3 separate regions of the Homo sapiens genome follow, and all the other regions are linked to region 2. Evidence: fine-mapped QTL for protein levels in blood plasma. A gene starts in region 2. Each other region holds a variant in brackets. All regions are shown on one strand. Distances are between the middles of the regions. Region 1 holds the start of LOC105379623 (a long non-coding RNA gene). Region 2 holds the start of OCLN (occludin). Region 3 holds the start of LOC105379016 (a long non-coding RNA gene).

Evidence for each region. PIP is the posterior inclusion probability: the model's chance that the variant is causal. The UK Biobank Pharma Proteomics Project read protein levels with antibody pairs (Olink). The fine-mapping took linkage between variants from a reference panel, not from the people measured, so its PIPs are less certain.
Region 1: its variant is fine-mapped to the plasma level of the OCLN protein (UK Biobank, PIP above 0.99).
Region 3: its variant is fine-mapped to the plasma level of the OCLN protein (UK Biobank, PIP above 0.99).

Annotation. Positions count from the first base shown.
Region 1 is chr5:69,838,238-69,846,427 of GRCh38, reverse strand. It overlaps LOC105379623 (a long non-coding RNA gene), which reads left to right and starts at 2,064. Exons shown (of 5, transcript XR_001742419.2): 1 at 2,064-2,345; 2 at 3,932-3,982. RefSeq lists an enhancer at 1,675-2,498. The variant T/AT (reference allele first, on the strand shown) is at 3,342.
Region 2 is chr5:69,488,313-69,496,499 of GRCh38, reverse strand. OCLN (occludin) reads right to left here and starts at 3,710. Exons shown (of 9, transcript NM_001205254.2): 1 at 3,600-3,710.
Region 3 is chr5:71,287,274-71,295,463 of GRCh38, reverse strand. LOC105379016 (a long non-coding RNA gene) reads left to right here and starts at 5,608. Exons shown (of 3, transcript XR_948416.3): 1 at 5,608-5,869. RefSeq lists enhancers at 4,923-5,748, 5,749-6,574. The variant T/AT (reference allele first, on the strand shown) is at 3,850.

The DNA.
Region 1 (8,190 bases), 350 kb before region 2:
ACTGCGCTTCCTGCACATGTACCCCAGAACTTAAAATTTAAATCAAGAAAAGGCAAAGGACATGAACAGATATTTTCTCAAAAGAAGACACTCAAGTATATGAAAAAACACTCATCCTTACTAATCATCAAATAAATAAATGCAAGCAAAAACCACAGTAAGATGCCATCTCACATCAGTCACAACAGCTATAATTAAAAAGTAAAAAAATTAGATGTTGGCCAGGCTGCAGAGTAAAGGGAATGCTTATACACTACTGTTGATGGAAATGTAAACTGGTTCAGGTACTGTGGAAAGTATTTTGGAGATTTCTCTAAGAACTTAAAACAGAGATACCCTTCGACCCAGCATTCCCATTACTGGGTATATATTCAAAGGAAAATAAATTATTCTACCAGAAAAATATATATGCACTCGTACGTTCATCAGCATGTTATTCACAATAGCACAGACATGGAATGAACCTAGGTGCCCATCAAAGGTGGATTGGATAAAGAAAATGTGGTACATATACACTATGGAATACTATGCCTCCATAAAAAAGAATGAAATTATGTCCTTTGCAGCAACATGGATGGAGCTAAGGACATAATCCTAAGCAAATTAGTGCTGGAAAAGAAAACCAGATACCACACATTCTCACTTATAAGTGGAACCTAAACACTGAGCACACAGGAACATTAACATGGGAACAAGACATGCTGCAGGCTATGGGGGTGGGGGAGAGAGGGGAGCATGGGCTGAATAACTACCTACTGGGTACTATGCTCACTACCAGGGTGCACTGTACAAAAGTAACAAATCTGCATATGCACTGTGTCTGGAAAAAACTGAAATTATAAAAACCAAGAGAATATGTTTCTAATGAATGTAGACTTTATTTGATGGACTGGACTAGAATATAATATTTTTTTAAGGGGAAAGGCATTGGGGGATGCACAATGTCTACAGGTTTCTAAACCTCTCTGGTTTCTCACCTAATTCATAGTCTCTTATGTCATTTTCATAGTTTTCATATTCTGCCTTTCCACCTCTTCTTTTTAACAAGTAAAATTCCTCATAGCATACAAAAAAACAATTTTATAAAAAACCCATATTATAGATCAGGGACCTGTGGATTATATGCTATTAGAACTATACAAAATGTCTCTATATAGTTTTCTGTATCTTTGGAATATCTTTGGGTGAAGCTGCAGACCTTCTTGGTGAGTGTTACAGCTCTGCGCAGAGCCAAACAGTGAGCAGCAGCAAGACTGCAAAGAGCAAAAGAACAAAGCCTCCACACTGTGGAAAGGGACCCTAGCACGTTGCTGTTGCTGGCTCTGGCAGCTGCTTTTATTCCCTTATCTCACCCCACCCACATCCTGATGATCGGTCCATTTCATAGAGAGCTGATGGGTTCATTTTACAGAGAGCTGCTTGGTCTGTTTACAATCCTTTAGCTAGACACAAAAGTTCTCCAAGTCCCCACCAGATTAGCTAGACACAGAGCACTGATTAGTGCGTTCACATACCTTGAGCTAGACACAGCATGCTGATTGGTGCATTTACAATCCTCCAGCTAGACGTAGTAAGTTCTCCAAGTACCCACCGGACTCAGGAGCCCAGCTGGCTTTGCCTAGTGCATCCCGGCCGCGGGCGGAGCTGCCCGCCAGTCTCTGGCGCGCTGCCGCACTCCTCAGCCGTTGGGCGGTTGACGGGACCGGGTGCCGCGTAGCAGGAGGTGGCGCCCGTCCCCTCGGGGTGGCGCGCGGGAGCCTGCGGTTGGGGGGCGGGGGGCGGGGGGCAGGGGACGGGGGCGGGGAGGAGGGTGAGGGCTCCAGCATGGCAGGCTGCAGGTCCCGAGCCCTGCCCCCTTGCCCCGCGGGGAGGTGGCTGAGGCCCAGCGAAAATTCGAGCGCGGCGCCGGCGGGCCATCACTGTTGGAGGACCCAGTGCACCCTCCGCAGCTGCTGGCCCGGGTGCTAAGCCTCTCACTGCCCAGGGCCGGCGGCGCCAGCCGACCGCTCAAGAGTGCGGGGCGCGCCGAGCCCGCGCCCACCCGGAAGTCGCGCCGAGCCCGCGCCCACCCGGAAGTCGCGCTGGACCGGCGAGCCCCGCAGGCAGCCCAGGTTCCGGCCCGCGCCTCTCCCTCCACACCTCCCCGCCAGCAGAGGGAGCCCGCTCAGGCCTCAGCCAGCACAGAGAGGGGCTCCCACGGTGCAGCTGCGGGCTGAAGGGCTCCTCAAGCGCGGCCAGAGTGGGCTGAGGCCGAGGAGGTGCCGAGAGCCAGCGAGGGATGCCAGCAAGCTGTCACCTCTCAGAAATACAGGAAGAACATCAATAATGTTCGAAGTTATAAAGTAGTAGGTTTCTATCAAGAGTAAAACATAAACGAAGTTATAAAGTAGTAGGTTTCTATCAAGAATAAAACATAAACGATCAAAGAATTCCTTATAAAAACATTTTTTATTTCTAGGAATCAAAACATAAATATAAAATTTGAGAGTCCACCAAAAAAAATTAGATGCCAGATTTCACTATAATTATCAGGGAAGCGCCCAAATGGGTTGTTTACGGCGCCTCGGGGAAACTTTCTGTTTCGTGTTAAGGGTCTTGAACCATGATGTTTAGAAAACCATGGGCTGATGCTTTCAGAACCTCTGTGATTTTTGCCTCCGACACTGCATCCAATAGACTAGCATGTTGATTAGGGAAAGCTAAATTCAATAAAAGACGACTGTAAGTGGGGTCACCACCTTGAGGGGTCATGTTAGAAAAGTAGATGATAAGGTGGTATTGATAGAGTATTGAAGTCTGGGCTCAAATGGTTGCCCGGGGCCTTTCAAGACCAATGACTGATAAGAATAGGTAATGTTCAGGACATAGAGTTTAGGATTGGGGGACACTGTGAGTTAAGGGCCATGACAGAAGTCTTCATAAGTAAACTGTTAATTGACACAAGCTGCTACCTGCCCAGGTGAGCAATCTGTTGGCCCAGAGGAGAGTTGCTTACTGACATAAATTGATTTGCAGAAATTTCCTGAAGCAAACAATAAGTTATTTATTGGTTTGCAGCCTTACTTTCCTGAAAAATAATTTTCTGGAATGAATTGTGAAATCATGTTGACACAGATGGCCTCAGGTTTCAGTTCGGATAATTAAGCTGTGTAAATATAGAAAGTCGAAGGTTTCTGGGTGCTGTTGATTCACAGTATGCAACAATGATCATATTACTTTTATTTACTATGAGCTTCAGCTGAAAATCCAAAAGAAACTTTAATTTCAGATATTTAATGAAATCATTATAGCTGTGGTAATTTCCTTTAGCTGGGTGTGAGTGTGTGATGTGAGCGTGTGAT[T/AT]GTGTGTGTGTGTGTGTGTGTGTGTGTGTGTGTACTCTGGCAGCATATTCCAAATAATTTCTGTAAAATTTCAGTTTGAAATTAATAGAAGACATATTAAATTGTTTAAACTCTTTGTTATTTAAATTCTATATTACTTTAGTCGATTACTCTGTATTATTACGGCAAAGCTTTGATATGTTGCCCTGAATTTAAAGAAAAGGCTGTTCGGCCTAAAAACAGGAATATTTTATTACCAAAAAGAATTAACTACCATATGTCATTTACAGAAAAGAGTAAATTCTTCAGGGCATAGAAAATACACATTTCCTTCTGTTTGTGTGGAAATAAGCAAAATACCTGTTATAATAGATTCCTCACAGAATTTTGTGAAGCTTCAGGTAAACTTGAAAGAGAAAAATTAAAATGCTAGAGTTTCATAATTACAAATTGGGATATAAAAATAGAATAATTATTTGAATTTTGTATTTCTCTCCAGGGGATCAAAAGTAATATATAAACTTTTAATAAATATTGATATAGCTTCACGTTGACTCCATATGTGAGCAATTTGCTTTCTGTTAAATTCACAATTGCATAATTTTTTTCAGGCTGGAATGCACTTGGATGCCAGAGATTTTGATTTCTTCATGTGAAATAAGGTGATAATACATTCCAAAGTATATATTTTTTCAACTTTGAATATATCTGGTGTATTTGGAGTAATATCTGAGTAAATACACTTATATGTAAGAGAATCAAAGGAACAAGATATTATTTTATATCCAAGGAAATTAACACTTAGAACATAAATACGTATTGCATTACTTCATATTAAAGAAATGTTTTACAAAAGAAAATAAAGGAGCTTATTTTATAGCCCCATTTCCACAAATAATAGCAAAGGTACATACACATATCTAATGTTTTACACACTCATTATTGTTTCTCTTAAAATTTGTTGCTTATACTATTTTAAAAGGCAAGCCTATAGATTGTTGTGTGTATATACATATACACACAACATACATATATGTGTGTGTGTGTGTGTGTGTGTGTATATATATATATATATATATATATATATATATATCAGCAAGCAAGAGAATGGGCCTCTTCCTGCTGAGGTTTAACATTTGCATGTATATGTATATTTTGATTCACATAGACTTATTGTTCTTTAATTACATGAACAGTGATTCCTGGTTACATTATTGGAAAATGGAAGCAATGCTCAAAGAGCATCACCTAAATTTCCATCATATTTTGCTCTCAATATATTTTGTACATCCAAATATATTGTGATTAATCTGCATACATTTTTGCTGTTCTAGGTGACGCTGGTATGAGGCTAGGTAATACACGACCTTAGTCTGCATGTTGTACTTGTGTAACACACATAATTTTACAGTGCTAACAGGTGCTATAATAACTAACTATAGTTAATGATGAATGAAAGAAGGAAGATGTTAAGATGTTAGGGAAGGACTCAAAAGATGCAGTGCTTGAGTTAGAATTTTAAGGGAGATTATGCAAAAGCAGTCACTTAAGGTGGGTCGGGATGATCTAGAATGTGGGAATGATGTATGCAAAGTCACACAGGAGAGATACAGCATGCATGTTTAGAAAATTGTTGATTACATATGGAAAGTTTGCAGGACTTGCATCCTAGAATGTCAGGATTTTAAGCTAAGTAGGGTTCAAATTAAATTTTTCACATACTTCGCTGCATTATAATAACTAGTTTATGTTTAACTCATCCACTAAACTAAGTTATTTGAAAAGAGATGCCAGTGTTCACTCAATCTAGTTGTCTGTCATTAATAATTTAAAAATAATTGAGATTTTAATTTTGGTCTGCTAAGCCTGTTTAATTAAAATTTGACGTTAAATAAGATTTTACAGGCCTCATTTTTTTTTCAGTCATCACAGTTTGAATATTAAACATTACTACTTTTATCTCCCTCAGTCAGCATAAAACATACTACTTATGGTTTTAATAACCAAATTCAATGAGCACCAACAAAATTTGATGTAACTATTAACTTTGAAATTTTGTTGAAATAGAACTATGCCTTGGGTATCATTCAAAGCATTTAATTGTTGCAATAAAAAACTTTGAGATAAATTGAAATGATGGACAATATGGGTCGAAAGCAACACTGGCTTGAGGGAATAGGCTAATGTTTGAGAACAGAATTGTTAAGGACAAGATTGGATGTTTATATTATTTTAGGAAAGATACACTCTAATGGAGTTTAATTCTAAAATGTTTAATATTATGAAAATATTATATGTTATATGATCATTATAGAAAATTAAAAATATAAGAACATCAGAAGCAAAATAGTCAAAGTCTACCTAAACCCAATTAGAAGTGAATACTATTAATCTTGATTTGCATGTTTCTAATCTTATTATTATCAAATTAATAAACAGCTTTCAGATATTCTGCTTCTCCCTGTTACTAGATCAGGATAATGTCATTTATGTACAGGCATCTCCTGCTTACTCAGTTCAGCATTGATCAATAAATATTTTAGACTTCCATTCAAAACACTTCCATTTTTCTTTTGCCCATATTCTTTTTATTCAGTGCTGCCTGTTTTCAAATACATAACACTTTGTCAAACAAATTCCAACATTAGATTGGATATAGTTGGTATCAAAGTAGTAATACACATTGCCATTCCTAATCCTCAGTGCATTGATCCTGAAAATTATTTGTAAGAATAGAAAAATACTGGATATTTCAAATTAAGTCTCATTTTGTTGCTTACCCATGAAAGACTGGAATTAACCAACATAACCATTACAAGGTGATTGAGCAAATGAATAGATGGAAAATATTATAGAAACTTTACTGCAGTTCATCAACCATTGTGGTCATTAGGCCGTAGGAAAATACAGTGTGACAGTACCCCTGTCTTCTTTTCCATTTGTTAAGTCTCATATCCAAGTAACAGTGGGTAGACCTTATGAGAACCCAAAGTGAGATAAAAATAATTTTTGGCTTTTCAATGTATCTTATTTGATCTAAGAGGTATTTCCCCGACTTTGATGCAATAATTCTTGTCACAAAATTTGACTTTACTGAAGACCGTTTTAAGGATCTTTGCAGCTGACAGCAGTGACTTTTTTACCTCCTACAAAGTTTCAACTGACAGTCTTATTGTCTCTGACTTTCCCAAATTAATGACATAATTAGTCACCAGGGCTTTGGCTGCTCAATAGGGATTTAGTAAGCAATGAGTCATATGTTGGGGAACACTTCAACAAACAAAATGTTGGCAGAGAAAGATGTATGAATCAGCTAGGAAGAAACACTATTCTATCACTGAGGATCTTTCTAATATTAGATATCACAGAAAAATTTTCATATAGATTACCATATGAGTGAGCCAAAACCTCTAGGAACAAAAAAGCTTAGTATAATTATAACTCCTTGCCATGATTTAACTTAAAATTTCTTTACTTATTTAGCAATTCTATAAACAAGAATCATTTCTGTTAAGGATACTAAGGAGAGTGTTCCTATTGAATCAGAACATTTAAAAGAAATAATTGAGGGAACTCACACATGTAAAACGTCATTAACCAAACTAAAATAAAATGTGAGGGCATAAACTTAACCAGAAATGTTTAAAACCTATATATAAAAAAAACTAGAAAACACTTCTGAATGGCACAAATTTGGACTTGAGCACGGGGAAAGAAATTCCATGCTCTTGAAAAAGCCTTAAAATCATAAATGTGCCAGTTCTTTAAATAAACTTATATCTTCTGTGTCATAACAAAACGACATTTTCTAGAATTTCTTTTTCCAGATTTAGAAAAATAGACAAATTTACTTGGAGGAATAAAGAAGCAAGAATAGCTAGAAATATCCTATAAAATCAATGGAATTTGGAGTCAATACAAAATATTAAGCAATTCTTAAAGCTTCTATGATTAAAATGAGTTATAACTACAGATAGATGAAGATCATATAGAAAATCAAGACATTGACAGATATGGAAAGGTGGTATATAATGAAAACATTTCAGATCAGTGAGGGGGAAATGTTAACCGGAAAAGAATATTAAAAAGGCAATGAACTCAATAAGACAACAAGAAGCAAACCACAGAAAAATAACTGGACTGGATTAGAAAGAAAATACTTTAGACACTTCAAAAATAAAATATTCAAATAACCAATGAACTTATTAAAAGGTTTTTATTTATATTGGTTACCTGAAAAAATAATTCAAACCACAATGAGATGTAAGTACTTGTCATTCAGAATCCTGAATTTGAAAGGAATATTTTAGAATTCTAAGTTGAAGAGAAAGTGCAAAGTATTGATGAGAATGTTGACTAATTAGAACACTCAAATTGATGTTATTGGCATAACTTAGTTCAAATAATTTGGATAAAGATATGTATTAGGCCCCAAAATTCTACTTGTAAAGATGGTTTCTCCAGAAATGCATGCATATATATAGCTAAAAAAAAATGTGTACTCATGAAAACACTTTTCAGAATAACACCAAAATAACCCCAAACTGTGGCCCAAAAGTGGACTAAAATACTTATAAAGAGTACAGTAAACAAATAAGTTGTAATATGATCACCTAATAAAATATTAGAGAAATAAATATAAATAGTTTCATTTGCAGGTCATATAGTCAATTCGTCTCACAAATATAATATTAAGCAAAAAAATGTGGTTCAAAACACTACACACACTATTTGATTCCTTACTGGTAAAAGTTAGAATAGTGTTATGTTAGGAGGGATGGGTGGAAATCAGGTGTGTGACTATTACATTTTCTTATTCTGGATGATCATAGTATTTTAAAACTCACTAAGCTTTAAACTTATGTGCATT
Region 2 (8,187 bases):
TGTCAATAAGTGAAAAATAAACTTTATTGTATTTAAGAGAAGTCTGTTCCTTTTAGAGCACATGCAGTAACTGTCAATTTGCCTTTAAAAAGTTTAAGTTGTGGCCGGGCGCGGTGGCTCACGCCTGTAATCCCAGCACTTTGGGGGGCCGAGACGGGAGGATCACGAGGTCAGGAGATCGAGACCATCCCCGCTAACACAGTGAAACCCCGCCTCTATTAAAAATACAAAAAATTAGCTGGGCATGGTGGCAGGCGCCTGTAGTCCCAACTACTCGGGAGGCCGAGGCAGGAGAATGGTGTGAACCCGGGAGGCGGAGCTTGCAGTAAGCCAAGATCGTGCCACTGCACTCCAGCCTGGGAGACAGCGAGACTCTGTCTCAAAAAAAAAAAAAAAAGTTTAAGTTGTGCCTTATATTAAATGATTTAGACTACAGGCACATCATTAGTAAATTGTCTAAAAATTTGAAGTTAGGCAGATTTTGTAATAGACTCTGTGTCAGAAATTGTATTTTTAATAAATCTTCCAGGTGATTTTTAAACACATCACATATTTTGAGAATTGCTGTCTACAATAAAGGTGTCAATCCAAAAAGGACATTGATCTTGCAATTTCCTGTCTAGAAAGCCCAGATCTTTTACACAACAGACACCTGCTGTTCAGGTCTCAGCTCAGACGTCACCTTCTGGGAGATGCCCTCCCTGTCCCTCACTCCATCACACAAAACTTGTTTTTTTTTTCAGAGCAAACTCCCCTCTGCCCTCATACCTAAAATATAGGTATCATCTCCACCGCATCTGGAATGCCCATATCCCAGACATCAAATGTCTATTTTGACCATCATTTATATCCCTGGTCGCTGGAACTAGCCCTGGCACAAAGTGATTGTCAATGAGTACTCAATTAATAAAACCAACAGTCAATTATTAGAGTTGGGATTTCAATCCAGCAGTGAATGCCTTGAAGTTCTTCACACAACACTCAATAAACGTTATTTTTTCCAACTTCAGTTTGTCAAATGTAATTAAGTGCGTAGAGTCTAAGAGAAAGGGAGAAAAAGAAGACAGAACAGTCTGAGAATCACCTGTGAGCCTGTTAGAAAGGCAGAATCCCAGGCCCCACTCCTGACCTCCCAATCAGAATCTGTGTTTTAATAGGATCCCTAAGTGATTCATACCACAGCCAAGACTGGAATCACTGGGTTACGGAACAGCGGCAAGCCTAGGGGTTAAAACAAAAAGCCTAACATAAATCTGCATGGTCTGTTTACTCTCTTATTTCCATAAATAGTAATTTGATGAAAAAGATCCATTAATATTCCAATCAAATAAGCCTTAAAATGCAACTGAAGAAAACTTCCTTCTGGGAGGTTCCTAGGAAGATGAAAGATATTACATCAGATCATTTATGTGGTTAAAAGTAATATACTATTTTGAAAAGGTAGTAATTCCAACACTACCTTTAGAAGAAAACAAGAATTTTACCTTGATATCAAGCAAAATGCGGGAAATCTTGTATCAGGCTACAGTTACTAGTCAATGGTAGAAAAGTCCAGAAAAATTCCCCAAATCTGGTTCTGGAATATCAAGGACCGCTGCTTCTGATACTCCTTCCCATATTAGCTGAAGCAGTTTGCAAGCAAGCCCACCTGCAACGTTTCCCCCACGGCATTTGCCCACTTTTAAAATGGAGTTCTACTAAGGCCTGCCTTTTAGAGTTGTTGGGATAATTAAATGAGAAAATACAGAATGCTTTTACCACAGTGCCTCACGTGCAGGAGGCACTGCTGCCCACTATTTCCCGAAATGGCCTGGAAACTGCCAAAAGGTGGAGAATCATGTCTTACCGATCTCCCTATCCTCTGCTCCGTCACCTAACAAAGGAGGCCCCTAATAACTAAATAAATTGCAAAACGACCAAAAAAAAAGTGTTGCTTTGTTTGAGGAAATATCTCTGCCTCCCACACACACTTAAGATGTCTATTTTAAAGCACCACTAAGAAAATATTCATAAAGGCTGGGTGTGGTGGCTTACGCCTGTAATCCCAGCACTTTGGGAGGCCAAGGCGGGCGAATCACCTGAGGTCAGGAGTTCGAGACCAGCCTGACCAAATGGCAAAACCCTGTCTCTACTAAAAATACAAAAATTAGCTGTGCATACTAGTGGGTGCCTGTAATCCCAGCTATTCGGGAGGCTGAGCAGGAGAATCGCTTGAACCCGGGAGGCAGAGGTTGCAGTGAGCCCAGATGATGCCACTGCACTGGGGGACAGAGCCAGACTCCGTCTCGGAAAAACACACACACACACACACACAAGCACCTCATATGTACAGTGCAAAAGAACTACTGTTACTATTGTTACACTTGGGAACGCCTAGTTTTCTATCACACCAAGAATCACCAAAAAACACCATAAGTGCCTTCATGGGAAACGTTTCTCTTTTCCAGGTATCCCAATAATACACCTGTTGCCTAAGGGCCACACACTGACTGGCCTGGAAAGCCGCCGCCTCCTCCTCGAGCAGGGTAATTCCCCAAGCGGGCAGTGTGGCCAGCGAGCCCCGGGTCCGGCCTAAGGATGCCGCGGCTTTTCCCTCGGGCCCGGTGGCTTCCCGAGGAGCGCGAGGGGCTCGGCGCCGCTCCCAACCCCTAGGCGCAGAGGCCATCTTGGCCCTCGACCCCTGCTCCCCGCACGCTTCCTCCGACGCAGGCAACATGGCTGGCGCGCGGGGCCGGCCCAGTCCCGGAGGTCCCCAAACTCCGTGGCCCGGCTGGGCGCGGGTCCCGGCTTCCGTGCGCACCGAGGCGCTCCCAGGCAGCGCGCGCCCACGTTCGCCGGGCAGGCACCGCCCGGAGGCAGTTCCGCCCCCCTGGGGGCAGCCCTTTTGGTCACGGATGAGAATCCGAAGCGTGAGCAGCTTCCCTCGAAGTCCAGCCTCACTCGAAATTAACTCCCCGCCCCCCAGCTTAAATCGACGCGGGTTCACACAACTCGCAACAAGTGGATTCGAAGTAGCCAGTGTGGCCCACACCGTGACTCCTGGAATATTTCACAGATTGAATCCAGCCCCCGTCTCCCCGGGATATCCAAAGGGGTGGGGTGGGAGCGGAAGGAATGAAATTCCCCCCGGGATCTAAGCCGCCCGGGCCGCCGAACAGCCGCCTCGCTGCAGCCTCAGGCTTAGGACCCCCAAGGAGCTGGGCGCAGGATCCCTCTCCATGAAGGCCGCCCCCCCAAACTGCAGCCCCAGAGCGGATGCAGGATCGTCGCTGTTCAGGAATGTCGTGCCCCATAAAAGTGAAAAGTTGCCCGCGCCGCTGAGGCACTGCTAGCTTTCAGCGTTTCCGCGGAATAAAGCTTGATCGGCGGCTCCAAGCCACCCCTCGCCCCAGGAGGCAGCCTCCCAAGTTGGCCGGTGCTGCTCTCTCCGCAGACCCGCGCCTCTCTGGTTCCCACGAGTCCCAGCTCGGGGACGAAACTGCCACCGAAACCAGCGCGGAGCGTCCTCCCCCCGGCACCTCCCCTAACATAGTCGCCGCGGTCCCCCCACGGGGACCCTCGGGCTCCCGTGCGCCCCTGACGCCGCGCCCAACACTCACCCGCTCGCCGCAACTGGGCCCGACCCTCCGGGGGCCAACGGTGCCAGGGAGCGCGCTCACCTGGCGGGCGCACCTGACGCCGCACCGACCGCCAGCGCTCAGCCGGGGACTGGGCTGGGGACGTCTCCTCCCCCTTCTCCCTCTCCTTTCCCTCCTCCCTACAACCGGCCCTGCCCCCGGGCATGCGCACCAACGTGGAAGGGGGTGCGGGAAGCCTGCGGGCCAGCGCCGCGAGTCCCACCTGCTGCGTCCTAGACCGGCTCCTCGGCGCTCTGGACCTGGCTCTCGGTTCCTGCCGCCTCCGCCAGAGGAAGCAGGGAGGGAGAGGTGGACGCGGGAGTGTAGGTGTGGTGTGTCGGCCTCCTCCCTCGGTGACCAATTCACCTGAAACTCGGATGGGAGGGGGCGGGAGGACGCGGTCCTGCTTCCCACACCCTGCCAGCGCGCTGTTAAAGGAACCGCGCGACGTTGCGGCCCGAGAGGCGGGGCGCAGAGGAGAGGCGCGGGCTCCTAGGGGGCAGCACGGATGGGGGTCCCTGACCACCCCGGGGTGCGTTCGGTGCTCCGCCTGCTTCGGATGGAACCTTGGGGTGTCTGATGGAGAGAGGCCGAACGAGGTCCAGAGGGGACTGTTTCCTCCGGAAAGAGGGTCCAGGCACTCAGCACTTTGATAGGAAAGGCACGTCCTCACAGGACACTTTTCTGCTTCCAGAATTTGATTAAACTGTTGCTGGAAAAAGGCATCTAGATGTATTGCTCCAACGAAAGACTCCTGGGAAAATTTCAAAAGTCGTGTGTAAACATTGGCGCTGTTTCTGAATCTCTAGATTCAGAATAAGAGACAATTACTTAGAGGGGTTAAAATGAGGGTGAACTACTGTAGGTGTTAGTTGCCATCCAGCAGGCTAAAGTGCATAATACAGTTTACACATCACCACCCCAGGGTCCTCTCCTGCCCACCCGGTCCGCTCTTGAGGACCGGGAAATTTAAACTATTATGGCTCTTTGGCCTGAGAAAAAGCACCTTATACGTTGTTTACCAACCTGTAGTGCTTTAAGAACAACACTACTTAAAAAGCAAAATAAACTTGGTTTACTTTTTTTTTTTTTTTAAGAAAACGAAAAAGCACCTTAGTTCCGGGTGCTGTATTCTATTTCTTGATCTGGATTCTGTTTCCAAGGGAAATTTCATAGTCTGCACTTAACACTGTGTATATTTTTATGTATGTTGGTTGTTTTTCAACATATTTTTTAATTGTACTCCAGGATGTGGCAATTATAGTTCTTGGCATTTAACTATCTGCATTGAAAGCGAACTTTTAGGTTTCTTACATCCTGCTTGTCTTTGTGTTCCAATCTGGAATGTCAGCATTGCTAATAAATTTCTATCCAATCCCACCCACTTCTCTACCTTTAATTAAATGGTTAGAGATGTGACTCTCCCATACATTAGATCTTAAGGCACAATTCATACTTGAGGAAGTAAAAGCACTATATAAATATGAGGTATTTCAGATGATGGCAGCTTTAATGGGTAATTAATTTAATTGGTATTTTTTTCGTGGAAGTCATTGCTACAAATGCTTTAATATGACTATGTAGTTTTTGAATGATGCAGTTTAAATTGGTATTGTTAACACTGGGGAAGTCAGGTTAATCCCCTTAATGTTCCCTGTCAGATTACTGAAATCTCCAAACATTCCATTTGGTTTATAATTAAACAAGGGAACATTTCCTAATACTCTCAGATTTGTAAACACATGTCTATTATTTTATAATGTATTTTGACATGTTCTGAAGAGATCTTAGGAGTTTTTTTCCACTTTATAAAAGAGAGTTCACATACCATAAAATTCACCCTTTTAAAGGGCACGTACAATTCAGTGGGTTTTAGTATACTCACCAGATTGTACAACCATCACCACCATCTAATTCCATTTTAATCGCCCCCAAAAGAAACCCCATGCCCATTAATAGTCACTCCCCATTTCCCCTCTCCCCTCATCCCTCGGCAACCACTAATGTACTTTCTGTCTCTATTAATTTGCCTATTCTGGACATTTTATATGAATGGATAATACAATATGTGCCCTTTGTGTCTGTCTTCTTTCACTTAGCATAATATTTTAAAGGTTCATCCATGATGTAGTATGTATTGGTACTTCATTCCTTTTTATAACTGAATAATATTCCATTGTATCGATGTATCACATTTCGTTTAATCATTCATCTGTTGATGAACATTTGGGTTGTTTCTCCTTTGGGGATGTTATGAATAATGTTACTATGAACATTTGTGTACAAGTTTTTGTGTGGACATATGTTTTCGGTTCTCTTGGTAAATTAGGTTTTTAAATTAAACTTTTTATCATTTTAAGATAACTTATGCATATCATGTTATTTTTCTTATTCCCACCCTAAACCTAAACTCAAAGACATGTTGTGTTGGGTAGAAGGCTTTCATATTCTATTTGCTTTCCCAATTCATTCCTTCAACTATTTTCTGAGTGCCTAATCTGTACACACACGAGTGAACAAAACTCAAAAATCTCTGTGAAACTTACTTTCTAGTTAGTTCTGAGTTCATCCATATGGAATAATAGGATTCATTAATTGTATGAATTCTATTTTATTCGCTTGAGATTAATTTTCTAAACAACAACATCAAAAGAACGGTTAACTATTGTCCAATATTGTGTATATTTCATAGTTGAAAGTGTCTAGAAAGAAAATCCAGCCTTAAAACTTAAACACATCATTCTTCAATACCAAAACAAAATTTGTTGGATGTTAAATGATGCCATGCTCAATTTAATCATGTTACATAATCATAAATTATAGCAAAATTTAATTACTATATTTTTTACCAAATATTCCTTCTTGGCAACTCACAGTAGTATTGAGTAGTATCCACTATTGAATATTATTTGATGAAAATCCCCGTGACTCAGAGCAATGTAAATATTATTTTCAGAACCCCATGATTAGAAACTTGTTGACTTTACCTGCAGTCAAATGGATAAGATGAAAAGACAATTTGTTTCTCCTTTTCTATGTGTAAAAGAGAAACTTAAGAGCTCAGATTATGGTGTCAGAAATCTCAGTTCAAATTCCAGTGTTGCTACTTGGTAGCTGGGTAGGACTAAAGGAAATTAAACTATGTAAGGTTCATTTTTTTCCACCGTAAATTTGAGATGATAATAAACAATACTGTCTTTATAAGTCTGTTGGTGGGAATGTGGAGCATTCACCAAGACAGACTATATGCTGAGCCACGAAACAAGTCTCAATAAATTGAGCAAGCCATTGCTGTATCCTATATGCCTGAAATAGTTCCTGTCACATAGGAATTACATAACTATGTGTTGGATGAATGAATGAATGACTATAGCCCTGCTTCCCAAATCCAACATGCCTGTGGAGTCTTGTCCTCCTCTCAGATGGCCTCCTGCTATTGTGAAACCCGCACGTTCCTTAGTAGCATTTCAAGGCTTACATCTCTAGTACTAGGGTTTAGAGGAGAAAAGACGGGAGATTAACATAGTTCCACTGTTTCCACTCTGCCTTGCCTGCTTAGTAAATGAATTCAAAGACTGGTATGTGTCCAAGGCAACTCAGTTTGGAGTTGCTGAGGGCCTGGCCTGAAAGGCCTCTAGTTTCTCTGCCCAGTCATGAGGAGGGGGAGGCTTCTGGTCCACACAGGACAGTTTCCTTGGACAGGTGTATGGAAGAATTTATGGGGAAGCCACTAGGAAGACAATTTCTAAAAGGATGATTACACTAGATGAGTAAACCTTTATCTTCTCTATTCCTATGTGTTAAGCAAGATCCTCCTGGGAGGAATCCATATTTAAACAAAGAGACTCAGCACCTGAACAGGAACTTCAACAGGTGGAAGAATAATAATAGCACCATTTACTCAGGGAAAAACATGTTCTAAGTACTATGCTAAGTGTTTTTTTGGTTTTCTGTTTGTTTGTTTTGAAACAGAGTCTCCTCCGTAGCCCAGGCTGGAGTGCAATGGTGTGATCAGCTCTCTGCAACCTCCGCCTCCTGGGTTCAAATGATTCTCCTATGTCAGCCTCCTGAATAGTTGGGACTACAGGCACCTGCCACCACGCCTGGCTAATTTTTGTATTTTCAGTAGAGATGGGATTTCACCTTGTTGGTCAGGCTGGTCTCGAACTCCTGACCTCAGGTGATACTAACGCCTTGGCCTCTCAAAGCGCTAGGATTACAGAGGTGAGCCACCATGCCCGGCAGTTTTATGTTTTTTTTTATTTTTTTCTGGTTTTTGGGTTTTTTTTTTTTTTTTTTTTTTTTTTTGAGACGGAGTCTCGCTCCGTTGCCCAAGCTGGAGTGCAATGGCGCAATCTCAGCTCACTGCAACCTCTGCCTCCCAGGTTCAAGCGATTCTCCTGCCTCAGCCTCCTGAGTAGCTAGGATTACAGGTGCCCGCCACCACGCCCAGTTAATTTTTGCATTTTTAGTAGACACGGGGTTTCACTGTGTTGGTCAGGCTGGTCTCAAACTCCTGACCTCAAGCAATTCACCCGCCTCAGCCTCCAAAATGCTGGGATTACAGGCT
Region 3 (8,190 bases), 1.8 Mb before region 2:
GGTTAACATTTCCCCCTCATTGATCTGAAATGTTTTCATTATATACCACCTTTCCATATCTGTCAATGTCTTGATTTTCTATATGATCTTCATCTATCTGTAGTTATAACTCATTTTAATCATAGAAGCTTTAAGAATTGCTTAATATTTTGTATTGACTCCAAATTCCATTGATTTTATAGGATATTTCTAGCTATTCTTGCTTCTTTATTCCTCCAAGTAAATTTGTCTATTTTTCTAAATCTGGAAAAAGAAATTCTAGAAAATGTCGTTTTGTTATGACACAGAAGATATAAGTTTATTTAAAGAACTGGCACATTTATGATTTTAAGGCTTTTTCAAGAGCATGGAATTTCTTTCCCCGTGCTCAAGTCCAAATTTGTGCCATTCAGAAGTGTTTTCTAGTTTTTTTTATATATAGGTTTTAAACATTTCTGGTTAAGTTTATGCCCTCACATTTTATTTTAGTTTGGTTAATGACGTTTTACATGTGTGAGTTCCCTCAATTATTTGTTTTAAATGTTCTGATTCAATAGGAACACTCTCCTTAGTATCCTTAACAGAAATGATTCTTGTTTATAGAATTGCTAAATAAGTAAAGAAATTTTAAGTTAAATCATGGCAAGGAGTTATAATTATACTAAGCTTTTTTGTTCCTAGAGGTTTTGGCTCACTCGTATGGTAATCTATATGAAAATTTTTCTGTGATATCTAATATTAGAAAGATCCTCAGTGATAGAATAGTGTTTCTTCCTAGCTGATTCATACATCTTTCTCTGCCAACATTTTGTTTGTTGAAGTGTTCCCCAACATATGACTCATTGCTTACTAAATCCCTATTGAGCAGCCAAAGCCCTGGTGACTAATTATGTCATTAATTTGGGAAAGTCAGAGACAATAAGACTGTCAGTTGAAACTTTGTAGGAGGTAAAAAAGTCACTGCTGTCAGCTGCAAAGATCCTTAAAACGGTCTTCAGTAAAGTCAAATTTTGTGACAAGAATTATTGCATCAAAGTCGGGGAAATACCTCTTAGATCAAATAAGATACATTGAAAAGCCAAAAATTATTTTTATCTCACTTTGGGTTCTCATAAGGTCTACCCACTGTTACTTGGATATGAGACTTAACAAATGGAAAAGAAGACAGGGGTACTGTCACACTGTATTTTCCTATGGCCTAATGACCACAATGGTTGATGAACTGCAGTAAAGTTTCTATAATATTTTCCATCTATTCATTTGCTCAATCACCTTGTAATGGTTATGTTGGTTAATTCCAGTCTTTCATGGGTAAGCAACAAAATGAGACTTAATTTGAAATATCCAGTATTTTTCTATTCTTACAAATAATTTTCAGGATCAATGCACTGAGGATTAGGAATGGCAATGTGTATTACTACTTTGATACCAACTATATCCAATCTAATGTTGGAATTTGTTTGACAAAGTGTTGTGTATTTGAAAACAGGCAGCACTGAATAAAAAGAATATGGGCAAAAGAAAAATGGAAGTGTTTTGAATGGAAGTCTAAAATATTTATTGATCAATGCTGAACTGAGTAAGCAGGAGATGCCTGTACATAAATGACATTATCCTGATCTAGTAACAGGGAGAAGCAGAATATCTGAAAGCTGTTTATTAATTTGATAATAATAAGATTAGAAACATGCAAATCAAGATTAATAGTATTCACTTCTAATTGGGTTTAGGTAGACTTTGACTATTTTGCTTCTGATGTTCTTATATTTTTAATTTTCTATAATGATCATATAACATATAATATTTTCATAATATTAAACATTTTAGAATTAAACTCCATTAGAGTGTATCTTTCCTAAAATAATATAAACATCCAATCTTGTCCTTAACAATTCTGTTCTCAAACATTAGCCTATTCCCTCAAGCCAGTGTTGCTTTCGACCCATATTGTCCATCATTTCAATTTATCTCAAAGTTTTTTATTGCAACAATTAAATGCTTTGAATGATACCCAAGGCATAGTTCTATTTCAACAAAATTTCAAAGTTAATAGTTACATCAAATTTTGTTGGTGCTCATTGAATTTGGTTATTAAAACCATAAGTAGTATGTTTTATGCTGACTGAGGGAGATAAAAGTAGTAATGTTTAATATTCAAACTGTGATGACTGAAAAAAAAATGAGGCCTGTAAAATCTTATTTAACGTCAAATTTTAATTAAACAGGCTTAGCAGACCAAAATTAAAATCTCAATTATTTTTAAATTATTAATGACAGACAACTAGATTGAGTGAACACTGGCATCTCTTTTCAAATAACTTAGTTTAGTGGATGAGTTAAACATAAACTAGTTATTATAATGCAGCGAAGTATGTGAAAAATTTAATTTGAACCCTACTTAGCTTAAAATCCTGACATTCTAGGATGCAAGTCCTGCAAACTTTCCATATGTAATCAACAATTTTCTAAACATGCATGCTGTATCTCTCCTGTGTGACTTTGCATACATCATTCCCACATTCTAGATCATCCCGACCCACCTTAAGTGACTGCTTTTGCATAATCTCCCTTAAAATTCTAACTCAAGCACTGCATCTTTTGAGTCCTTCCCTAACATCTTAACATCTTCCTTCTTTCATTCATCATTAACTATAGTTAGTTATTATAGCACCTGTTAGCACTGTAAAATTATGTGTGTTACACAAGTACAACATGCAGACTAAGGTCGTGTATTACCTAGCCTCATACCAGCGTCACCTAGAACAGCAAAAATGTATGCAGATTAATCACAATATATTTGGATGTACAAAATATATTGAGAGCAAAATATGATGGAAATTTAGGTGATGCTCTTTGAGCATTGCTTCCATTTTCCAATAATGTAACCAGGAATCACTGTTCATGTAATTAAAGAACAATAAGTCTATGTGAATCAAAATATACATATACATGCAAATGTTAAACCTCAGCAGGAAGAGGCCCATTCTCTTGCTTGCTGATATATATATATATATATATATATATACACACACACACACACACACACACACACATATATGTATGTTGTGTGTATATGTATATACACACAACAATCTATAGGCTTGCCTTTTAAAATAGTATAAGCAACAAATTTTAAGAGAAACAATAATGAGTGTGTAAAACATTAGATATGTGTATGTACCTTTGCTATTATTTGTGGAAATGGGGCTATAAAATAAGCTCCTTTATTTTCTTTTGTAAAACATTTCTTTAATATGAAGTAATGCAATACGTATTTATGTTCTAAGTGTTAATTTCCTTGGATATAAAATAATATCTTGTTCCTTTGATTCTCTTACATATAAGTGTATTTACTCAGATATTACTCCAAATACACCAGATATATTCAAAGTTGAAAAAAAATATACTTTGGAATGTATTATCACCTTATTTCACATGAAGAAATCAAAATCTCTGGCATCCAAGTGCATTCCAGCCTGAAAAAAATTATGCAATTGTGAATTTAACAGAAAGCAAATTGCTCACATATGGAGTCAACGTGAAGCTATATCAATATTTATTAAAAGTTTATATATTACTTTTGATCCCCTGGAGAGAAATACAAAATTCAAATAATTATTCTATTTTTATATCCCAATTTGTAATTATGAAACTCTAGCATTTTAATTTTTCTCTTTCAAGTTTACCTGAAGCTTCACAAAATTCTGTGAGGAATCTATTATAACAGGTATTTTGCTTATTTCCACACAAACAGAAGGAAATGTGTATTTTCTATGCCCTGAAGAATTTACTCTTTTCTGTAAATGACATATGGTAGTTAATTCTTTTTGGTAATAAAATATTCCTGTTTTTAGGCCGAACAGCCTTTTC[T/AT]TTAAATTCAGGGCAACATATCAAAGCTTTGCCGTAATAATACAGAGTAATCGACTAAAGTAATATAGAATTTAAATAACAAAGAGTTTAAACAATTTAATATGTCTTCTATTAATTTCAAACTGAAATTTTACAGAAATTATTTGGAATATGCTGCCAGAGTACACACACACACACACACACACACACACACACACACACCACACGCTCACATCACACACTCACACCCAGCTAAAGGAAATTACCACAGCTATAATGATTTCATTAAATATCTGAAATTAAAGTTTCTTTTGGATTTTCAGCTGAAGCTCATAGTAAATAAAAGTAATATGATCATTGTTGCATACTGTGAATCAACAGCACCCAGAAACCTTCGACTTTCTATATTTACACAGCTTAATTATCCGAACTGAAACCTGAGGCCATCTGTGTCAACATGATTTCACAATTCATTTTTCAGGAAAGTAAGGCTGCAAACCAATAAATAACTTATTGTTTGCTTCAGGAAATTTCTGCAAATCAATTTATGTCAGTAAGCAACTCTCCTCTGGGCCAACAGATTGCTCACCTGGGCAGGTAGCAGCTTGTGTCAATTAACAGTTTACTTATGAAGACTTCTGTCATGGCCCTTAACTCACAGTGTCCCCCAATCCTAAACTCTATGTCCTGAACATTACCTATTCTTATCAGTCATTGGTCTTGAAAGGCCCCGGGCAACCATTTGAGCCCAGACTTCAATACTCTATCAATACCACCTTATCATCTACTTTTCTAACATGACCCCTCAAGGTGGTGACCCCACTTACAGTCGTCTTTTATTGAATTTAGCTTTCCCTAATCAACATGCTAGTCTATTGGATGCAGTGTCGGAGGCAAAAATCACAGAGGTTCTGAAAGCATCAGCCCATGGTTTTCTAAACATCATGGTTCAAGACCCTTAACACGAAACAGAAAGTTTCCCCGAGGCGCCGTAAACAACCCATTTGGGCGCTTCCCTGATAATTATAGTGAAATCTGGCATCTAATTTTTTTTGGTGGACTCTCAAATTTTATATTTATGTTTTGATTCCTAGAAATAAAAAATGTTTTTATAAGGAATTCTTTGATCGTTTATGTTTTATTCTTGATAGAAACCTACTACTTTATAACTTCGTTTATGTTTTACTCTTGATAGAAACCTACTACTTTATAACTTCGAACATTATTGATGTTCTTCCTGTATTTCTGAGAGGTGACAGCTTGCTGGCATCCCTCGCTGGCTCTCGGCGCCTCCTCGGCCTCAGCCCACTCTGGCCGCGCTTGAGGAGCCCTTCAGCCCGCAGCTGCACCGTGGGAGCCCCTCTCTGTGCTGGCTGAGGCCTGAGCGGGCTCCCTCTGCTGGCGGGGAGGTGTGGAGGGAGAGGCGCGGGCCGGAACCTGGGCTGCCTGCGGTGCTCGCAGGTCCAGCGCGACTTCCGGGTGGGCGCGGGCTCAGCGCGACTTCCGGGTGGGCGCGGGCTCGGCGCGCCCCGCACTCTTGAGCGGTCGGCTGGCGCCGCCGGCCCTGGGCAGTGAGAGGCTTAGCACCCGGGCCAGCAGCTGCGGAGGGTGCACTGGGTCCTCCAACAGTGATGGCCCGCCGGCGCCGCGCTCGAATTTTCGCTGGGCCTCAGCCACCTCCCCGCGGGGCAAGGGGGCAGGGCTCGGGACCTGCAGCCTGCCATGCTGGAGCCCTCACCCTCCTCCCCGCCCCCGTCCCCTGCCCCCCGCCCCCCGCCCCCCGCCCCCCAACCGCAGGCTCCCGCGCGCCACCCCGAGGGGACGGGCGCCACCTCCTGCTACGCGGCACCCGGTCCCGTCAACCGCCCAACGGCTGAGGAGTGCGGCAGCGCGCCAGAGACTGGCGGGCAGCTCCGCCCGCGGCCGGGATGCACTAGGCAAAGCCAGCTGGGCTCCTGAGTCCGGTGGGTACTTGGAGAACTTACTACGTCTAGCTGGAGGATTGTAAATGCACCAATCAGCATGCTGTGTCTAGCTCAAGGTATGTGAACGCACTAATCAGTGCTCTGTGTCTAGCTAATCTGGTGGGGACTTGGAGAACTTTTGTGTCTAGCTAAAGGATTGTAAACAGACCAAGCAGCTCTCTGTAAAATGAACCCATCAGCTCTCTATGAAATGGACCGATCATCAGGATGTGGGTGGGGTGAGATAAGGGAATAAAAGCAGCTGCCAGAGCCAGCAACAGCAACGTGCTAGGGTCCCTTTCCACAGTGTGGAGGCTTTGTTCTTTTGCTCTTTGCAGTCTTGCTGCTGCTCACTGTTTGGCTCTGCGCAGAGCTGTAACACTCACCAAGAAGGTCTGCAGCTTCACCCAAAGATATTCCAAAGATACAGAAAACTATATAGAGACATTTTGTATAGTTCTAATAGCATATAATCCACAGGTCCCTGATCTATAATATGGGTTTTTTATAAAATTGTTTTTTTGTATGCTATGAGGAATTTTACTTGTTAAAAAGAAGAGGTGGAAAGGCAGAATATGAAAACTATGAAAATGACATAAGAGACTATGAATTAGGTGAGAAACCAGAGAGGTTTAGAAACCTGTAGACATTGTGCATCCCCCAATGCCTTTCCCCTTAAAAAAATATTATATTCTAGTCCAGTCCATCAAATAAAGTCTACATTCATTAGAAACATATTCTCTTGGTTTTTATAATTTCAGTTTTTTCCAGACACAGTGCATATGCAGATTTGTTACTTTTGTACAGTGCACCCTGGTAGTGAGCATAGTACCCAGTAGGTAGTTATTCAGCCCATGCTCCCCTCTCTCCCCCACCCCCATAGCCTGCAGCATGTCTTGTTCCCATGTTAATGTTCCTGTGTGCTCAGTGTTTAGGTTCCACTTATAAGTGAGAATGTGTGGTATCTGGTTTTCTTTTCCAGCACTAATTTGCTTAGGATTATGTCCTTAGCTCCATCCATGTTGCTGCAAAGGACATAATTTCATTCTTTTTTATGGAGGCATAGTATTCCATAGTGTATATGTACCACATTTTCTTTATCCAATCCACCTTTGATGGGCACCTAGGTTCATTCCATGTCTGTGCTATTGTGAATAACATGCTGATGAACGTACGAGTGCATATATATTTTTCTGGTAGAATAATTTATTTTCCTTTGAATATATACCCAGTAATGGGAATGCTGGGTCGAAGGGTATCTCTGTTTTAAGTTCTTAGAGAAATCTCCAAAATACTTTCCACAGTACCTGAACCAGTTTACATTTCCATCAACAGTAGTGTATAAGCATTCCCTTTACTCTGCAGCCTGGCCAACATCTAATTTTTTTACTTTTTAATTATAGCTGTTGTGACTGATGTGAGATGGCATCTTACTGTGGTTTTTGCTTGCATTTATTTATTTGATGATTAGTAAGGATGAGTGTTTTTTCATATACTTGAGTGTCTTCTTTTGAGAAAATATCTGTTCATGTCCTTTGCCTTTTCTTGATTTAAATTTTAAGTTCTGGGGTACATGTGCAGGAAGCGCAGTTTTGTTACATAGATAAACGTGTGTGGTGGTGGTTTGCTGCACCTATCAACCCATCACCTAGGTATTAAGCCCAGCATGCATTAGCTATTTTTCCTGATGCTCTCCCTCTCCTCAACCCCCTACAGAAAATTATAGTGTGTGTTGTGTGTTGTTCCCCATTGTGTGTTGTTCCCCTCCCTGTGTCCATGTGTTCCCATTGTTCAGCTCCCACTTATAAGTGAGAAGATGCGGAGTTTGATTTTCTGCTCCTGTATTAGCTTTGCCCTTTTTAACTGGGGTTGTTTTATGCTTGTCATTTTTTCTTCCTTATGGATTTGTTATATTAGATCTTTATCAGATGCATAGTTTGCAAATATTTTCTCCCATTCTGTAAGTTGTCTGTTTACTCTGTGGATAGTTTCTATTGCTGTGCAGAAGCTTTTTAGTTTGATTGACTTTCACTTGTCAATTTCGTTTTTGTTGCAATTGTTTTTAGAAACTTAGCCAAAAATTATTTGCCAAGGCCAATGTCGAGAAAAATATTTCCTAGGTTTTGTTTTAGAGTTTTCATAATCTGAAGTCTTACATTTTAACCTTTAATCCATCTTGAATTAATTTGTGTGTATGGTGGAAGGTAAGCATCCAGTTTCACTCTTCTGCTTATGGCTAGCGAATTATCCCAGCACCATTTATTGAATAGGGTGCCTTTTCCCCATTGTTTGTTTTTGTTGGCCTTGTCCACGATCCAGATGGTGGTAAGTGTGCAGCTTTATTTTTGAGTGTTCTATTCTGTTCCATTGGCTTAAGTGTCTGCTTTTGTAACAGTAT